2 separate regions of the Homo sapiens genome follow, and region 2 is linked to region 1. Evidence: fine-mapped expression QTL. A gene starts in region 1. The other region holds a variant in brackets. All regions are shown on one strand. Distances are from middle to middle. Region 1 holds the start of RYK (receptor like tyrosine kinase). Region 2 overlaps RYK (receptor like tyrosine kinase).

Region 1 (2,914 bases):
AAGAATGCAAACGTCTAGGTACCAAGGACTTCCTTTTTGGGGGGTCGTTCCTGTCAGATCTTCCTCTAAGGGGTCATTTCCAGAATCCACAAAGTCCTAACATAAGACCCCAGCAATTTTTCAAATTAATTCCCCAAACAACAAAGCTAAGCAAGTAAATGGAACCACAAACCGACCCAAGACTAAGTTCTTGTTTCCCTTCAAGATACTCAAAAGTAGGAGAGTGGCCCAGAAGTACAGAGTCAGTCCAAACTCCCAACACACCCAATGCAAAAACCAAAAAGGTATTGAAACTAAAAAGGTCTGCTACCTGGCGATTCATTCACTAAAAATATGCTTAGAATCTAAGCATATGCTCCAAATCTACGTCCCAAGAGTTGGAGGCTGCCACGAACATTTGGTGCCCTTATAACCTCCCCTTCTTTCTCTCTCGTTTTTTTTTTTTTTTTTTTTTTTTTTGTAAAAGGGTAAGCACAGAGCGTGGCCTCTACTGGAGCATCAAAACCACAGCAAAGGGTTTGCAAGTTCAGTCTAAAACGTGAATTTCGAGATATTCAAAATCGAGGGCCCTAGAGTGACACACATAGAAAGCGTCAAAAAAACTTCGTGCAGCAAGGAAAAAAAGTTGTAAGGGTGACTGACTCTTCTAGGGAGAAGGGCTAAGGAGGCAGTGAGGAGGATGGGATGGGGTGAATCTGGGTCTATCGCGGCGGGGCAGCGAGGGCGGCACGAAGGCTGACCCAGAGCTGGGGACCGGGCAGGGACCACACCTCCCAGCCAGCACGGCAGGCAGAGACCGGGCCGCGAGGCGAATCCGGGCGCGGGGGGCGGGGAGGGTACTCGCCCGAGGTCCACGGCTCGCAGACTGATCCGCCGGCGGCCGGAAGCTGCCCCAGCCGGCCCGACCTGCCCGCCCCGGCCTCGGCGGCCCCACTCACCGATCAGCCGGCGCACCTCGTCCTCGCTCAGGTAGAGACTCACGCTGGGCCCCGCGGAAGCCGACTGCAGCTCCGGGGGCCGCGGGGCGGGGGCGGCGGCAGCGCCAGGCGCGGGCAGCAGCGGCAACAGCGCAAGCAGAAGCAGCAGCGGCGGCGGCGGCGGGGCCCTCAGGCCGCGGGCCCCCGGGAGGCAACTCCGGCCCGGCCGCCCCAGCCGCGCCGCCCCACGCATGGCCGCCGCCGCCGCCGCCGAAGAGGAGCGTCGGCCGCCCGCCGCACCGCCGCCCACCCCCGGCCCCGAGCCGCTCACAGCCCCGAGCCGGGGGCGGCTGCCCAGCTCATCGCACCGCCGGCCCGTGGCAGCCAGCAGTGGCTTCAGACCTCCGGAGCGCGCCGCCGCCGCCGCCTCCTCGCTGCATCGTCCGGAGTTGGGGGCTGCCCGCGGGACGCGCCCGTGCGCGCCGCCGCCTCCCCGGGAGCGCGCACGCACCTTTCGCTCTGGGCGGGCCGGCCTGGGCAACGCGCTGGGGTTTTAAAGTGCCTCGGCGGGCGAAGGGCTCGGGTCACCCTCTCCGCAAGAGCCGGTCCCCGCCCCACGCGGTCACTGCGTCTAATGTTTGCTTGTCTATTGTCTGTAACCCTCCTTTCCCGACGGACGGGCCAGGCTGGAGCCACCGGCCGCGCCTGCAGCTCAGTGGGCGCCCCAGGTCCCCGGAAACGCCTGGATGCGGCCGTTCTGGTTGCGAAAAAGCAGCATGCTTTCCTGTTTAGTGGGAAAACTCAAATAAATAGAAATCATCCTTTATCTTACCATCGGTGATCAACTTTATCGTTTCCGTATCTATTATTAGAATTTATACTACATATATTTGTTTTCCAGAAAGATCTTAGCACGCTTTACTAACCCTATTTTTACGTTACAAAATTTTATTTATTTTTATATTTTTATTTATTTATTTTGAGACGAAGTCTTGCTCCGTCACCCAAGCTGGAGTGCACTGGCACGATCTCGGCTCACTGCAACCTCTGCCTCCTAGGTTCAAGCCATTCTCCTGCCTCAGCCTCCCGAGTAGCTGGGATTACAGGCGCCCGCAACCATGCCCGACTAATTTTTTTGTATTTTTAGTAGAGACGGGGTTTCACCATGTTGGCCGGGTTGGTCTCGAACTCCTGACCTCACGTGATCAACTGACCTCGGCCTCCCAAAGTGCTGGGATTACAGGTGTAAGCCACCGCGCCCTGCCAAATTGTTATTTTTTTTATAATCGTTCTGCATCACTATAATCAACCTGCCTTTGGGGTTGTTAATCTGTGGTCCATACCAGGCTTCGACAGCCTTCCAATAATATGAAACTGTGTGCAAAAGTGTATGTGTCTCCGTGCGTATTTGTGTCCACGTCCATGTTTCTGTGTGTTGTGTGTATGCTTGATTGCACACAGAGAGGTGGTATGTCATCATTTGTTCTAGGGAGTCCTTGTGCCCTCAAAGAGGTTAAGAACTGCAGATAGACCTCGTGTACTTAAAGGCGGTGGAGCCAGCCAGTGCATGGACTTCCGGGCCTCCTGATGTATTTTTGTGAGCCGCCCACCATCGCGGTCAAACTTGCACCAGTGCCCCCTCTCTTGGTGAGGCTCCAAGGGCCCCTGCCCTGTCCTGGGACACCTCGTCCCTGCGGACAGGCCCCCGTCCTGACCCCAAGGCTCTCGCGGGGCCGTGCCTCGGGGAGCAGCTGCTCTGACAGCTAGGCCTGGCTTCGGGGCACAGTTGCTCCATCGCAGTGAGGCCCTGGGAAGCGGTTATTTTTATCCTCAGGGAAGGGTAGGGAAAAGGAGAGGCTGATAAGGAGGGAAGTGCTGGAACTTGATTTTCTCCCTCCCTAGCAAGATACACGGATTCCATTTAGAGATAGGCTGGCCTCAATTTGTCAAGCTTCAGCGCCTCAGCACAAAATCTTACACCCTTCATCCTGCCGGAG
Region 2 (2,914 bases), 39 kb before region 1:
AAGGTGGCAGAAAAAAGACAGTGCAGATCTTGAGTCTTGCAGAATGAGTAGGATGAATAGAAAGGAGTTCACGAGCAGAAAGAGGAAAAGATGATCCCAAATACTGAGACCAGCACATGCAAAGGCTTGAAGATCAGAACTGCATGTAGTCTGGAACTGCTACAACTCTGGGGCAAGTGCAGCAACAAGGCTAGACAGGCAGGCAGGGGCAGATGGTAAAGGATCCAGGACACAAGGTGGTGAGTCTGGAATGTTCAGTTGATGGGAGTGGAGAGCACTGATGGGCTTCACGTCACAGGGTCAAACATGACCGTGCAAAGATCATCTGGGCCACAGGGTGAAATGTGGTGCCTAATCAAAGGGAAACAAGATCAGGCACAGGGACTCATGTGGAGGTAAGTACCAGCAATGCAGAAAAAGAGACAGGGAGGGCGGAGCACAGAGAGTTCCAGAAGGACAGAAAAGAGAGAATGGTTTAAGAACACAGTGCAAATATTTACAAAAATTACTTTTCACAGTACTCATACATCTTATGCCTATCAAGTAATACACACTACACATCAGTAAACTTCTGTTTTGGGGCCATAGGGGATGCAGTTGAAAAAGTATGTTAACTCTGTCTTTGAAGACTCTTACTTACCTGATAAAGTGCGTGGAACTTCCCCCTGAACAGAAATGTTGACCTGGGGCATATCCATTGCCAAAACATTGTCCACTTGGAATCCCAGCTTATATTCAACCTGTAAAATAGACAAAAATAAACAAAATGGACCTGTGATAACAAGAAGGATACTATCAGCTTGACTTCATTAATTGGCTCATTAATCAATGGATGAGCCTTTCATATGTACAAATAATCTAGCTATAAAAAAATGCAAATTGTCAGAAACAGTCCTAAGAATTTTCAATTGGATAAAAATTCAACCAAGTAAGCCACCCTCTATTTTAAGTCCACAACAGGACCACCACTCTTCCATAAAACCTGCCATCTAGGGTCAGAAATCCTGCTGAGAACTATGCAGCACTGACAGAGAGGCCATGGAGAGCCAGATATGAAGAACCAAAGCGGTGAGATATGTAACTGACAGACCATAAATAGCTACCAATGCCTTCTCTGGTTGATAAATGAAAGCCAAGCTCGGAGGGCCTCCTTGTGGCTGGTGGAGGAAGGTCTGCTCTGCAGACCCACTCACACAATAAGCAGATTCCAAGGTAGATTTCTCATAGAATATCTAAGTCACATCCTCTAGTCTTGCTCTCACCAAAAAGAAAGTTCATGTTTAGATCCCCATTTGACCTCTGGATCT[ACTT/A]CTTAAGTGATTCAGAATCCAGAAGGGAAGACAGGCAACCCATGAGATGTCTCTAAAACACCAATGTTATCTATCAATACTTGGCCTACCCAATGTGGCTTAACAGAACCAATCAGCATCAATAATTAAGGCTCTGTTGCTATGGAGAGTTCATGAAAGAAGCAGCTCAAACTGCAAAGCAATAGCTGAAATTCAGAATGGCTGCCAGCATCAAGACTTTCAATGAAGCCCTACAGTTCACATCACTCTCTGCCCTGCCCACAGGTTCTTGATAACTATGGTATCCCTCTCTCATTCAGTGGTCACAAAAGGTATCATTGGTGGCAGACTGAGATTTGCAGAGCCACGAGGCAGCAGGTTGGGAAAAGAGTGAGAAGAAAGATGTTCGATAAACCATTCTTCAAGAAACTTAACTAGAAGAATGGGAGACAGATGGTGAAGTGGGGGGTGTTCCAAAGCTTTTCTTTGTTTTTAGATGAGATATTCAAATATGTATATATGCTAGTGAAAAAAGCTAACGAAATGGTACATAATAAAGATGAAAGAAAAGAGGGAAAGAGTATCATCCCAGATATAAGGGAAGGGATGGCCCTTACGCTTGGGCTAAGGTGGAAGGCGTTGTTACCCATGAATAAGAAGGGCTCAGTCCAGAATTTGATTCCCCTTGGGGTTTCTCCTTTCACACTCTATTTAAAGTGTCTTAGCTAAACACTGTAGGGGTATGCAAACATTAAACTCTTCCTTTGCAGTTAAGATAGGTACGTAAACAACTGTTAAAGGCTGTGTTTGATAAGTGCCACATTCCCAACAAAGGAAATGTTCTTGCTGCAGCACATCAGTGACTTCGAGGTACCTTGGCTAGGAAGTGTTCACATTCACCTTAGCATATCACAATACCATTGCTGCCACCAGGGGGTGCTAGAGAGCCACAGCCAAGCAAGTTTGGGCAGGGAATGAGCAAGCTCTCCAGCAATACATCAAAGAATGCATTATACATCCCTACACCGATGCTATCTCTGAACAGGACCATACATGAAGGGTAGGTGCACAAAAGAAATCAGCACCGCCAGCAAGAACTGGGTTTGGAACCATGAGACCATGTGACTCTTAGGTAAATTTGTAACTTCTCTGAGTTTCCATATTTTGTAAAATAAGGGTAATACATGTTATGAGGATCAAATAAGATCATTAATGCAATACATACTGTTAGCCTGGCACAAGTCTCCTCTGACATCAGCAGCATCAGCAGTCATTCCAGAACAGCTACCTTATTGCCATGCTGCACTTCTCCATAATCATCAGCCCACTGCTGGCCCCAGGGATTCTGACACAAACCCTCCTGGGTCTGTCAAGAACACTGTTGCAGGCCTTCTGTTTTTTCCCCATTCTGAGAACCTCCCTATTCAGAACAGCCTCCTACACTCTCTGCCTCTTCACAAATGTCTTCCCACCTTCTCCCACAACCTGGCTTTCCTCAGAAGTCATCTGTTCCCCTTCCTATCATTCAGTTCCTACAACACCTGACCCTCAGGGCCTAGACAGTAGGGTCGGCACTCTTTAGGATCACTAGGTCCTTCCCAGACATCCCTTCCTCATGCCCTCAT

What was found.
Region 2: its variant is fine-mapped to the expression of RYK in blood mononuclear cells (TOPMed, PIP above 0.99).

What each region holds. Positions count from the first base shown.
Region 1 is chr3:134,249,485-134,252,398 of GRCh38, forward strand. RYK (receptor like tyrosine kinase) reads right to left here and starts at 1,375. Exons shown (of 15, transcript NM_002958.4): 1 at 939-1,375. The coding sequence starts at 1,170. RefSeq lists an enhancer at 616-1,394 and a silencer at 730-1,549.
Region 2 is chr3:134,210,868-134,213,781 of GRCh38, forward strand. RYK (receptor like tyrosine kinase) reads right to left here. Exons shown (of 15, transcript NM_002958.4): 3 at 641-740. Among named protein-coding and RNA genes, the nearest start is that of RYK, 39 kb to the right of the region's middle. The variant ACTT/A (reference allele first, on the strand shown) is at 1,308.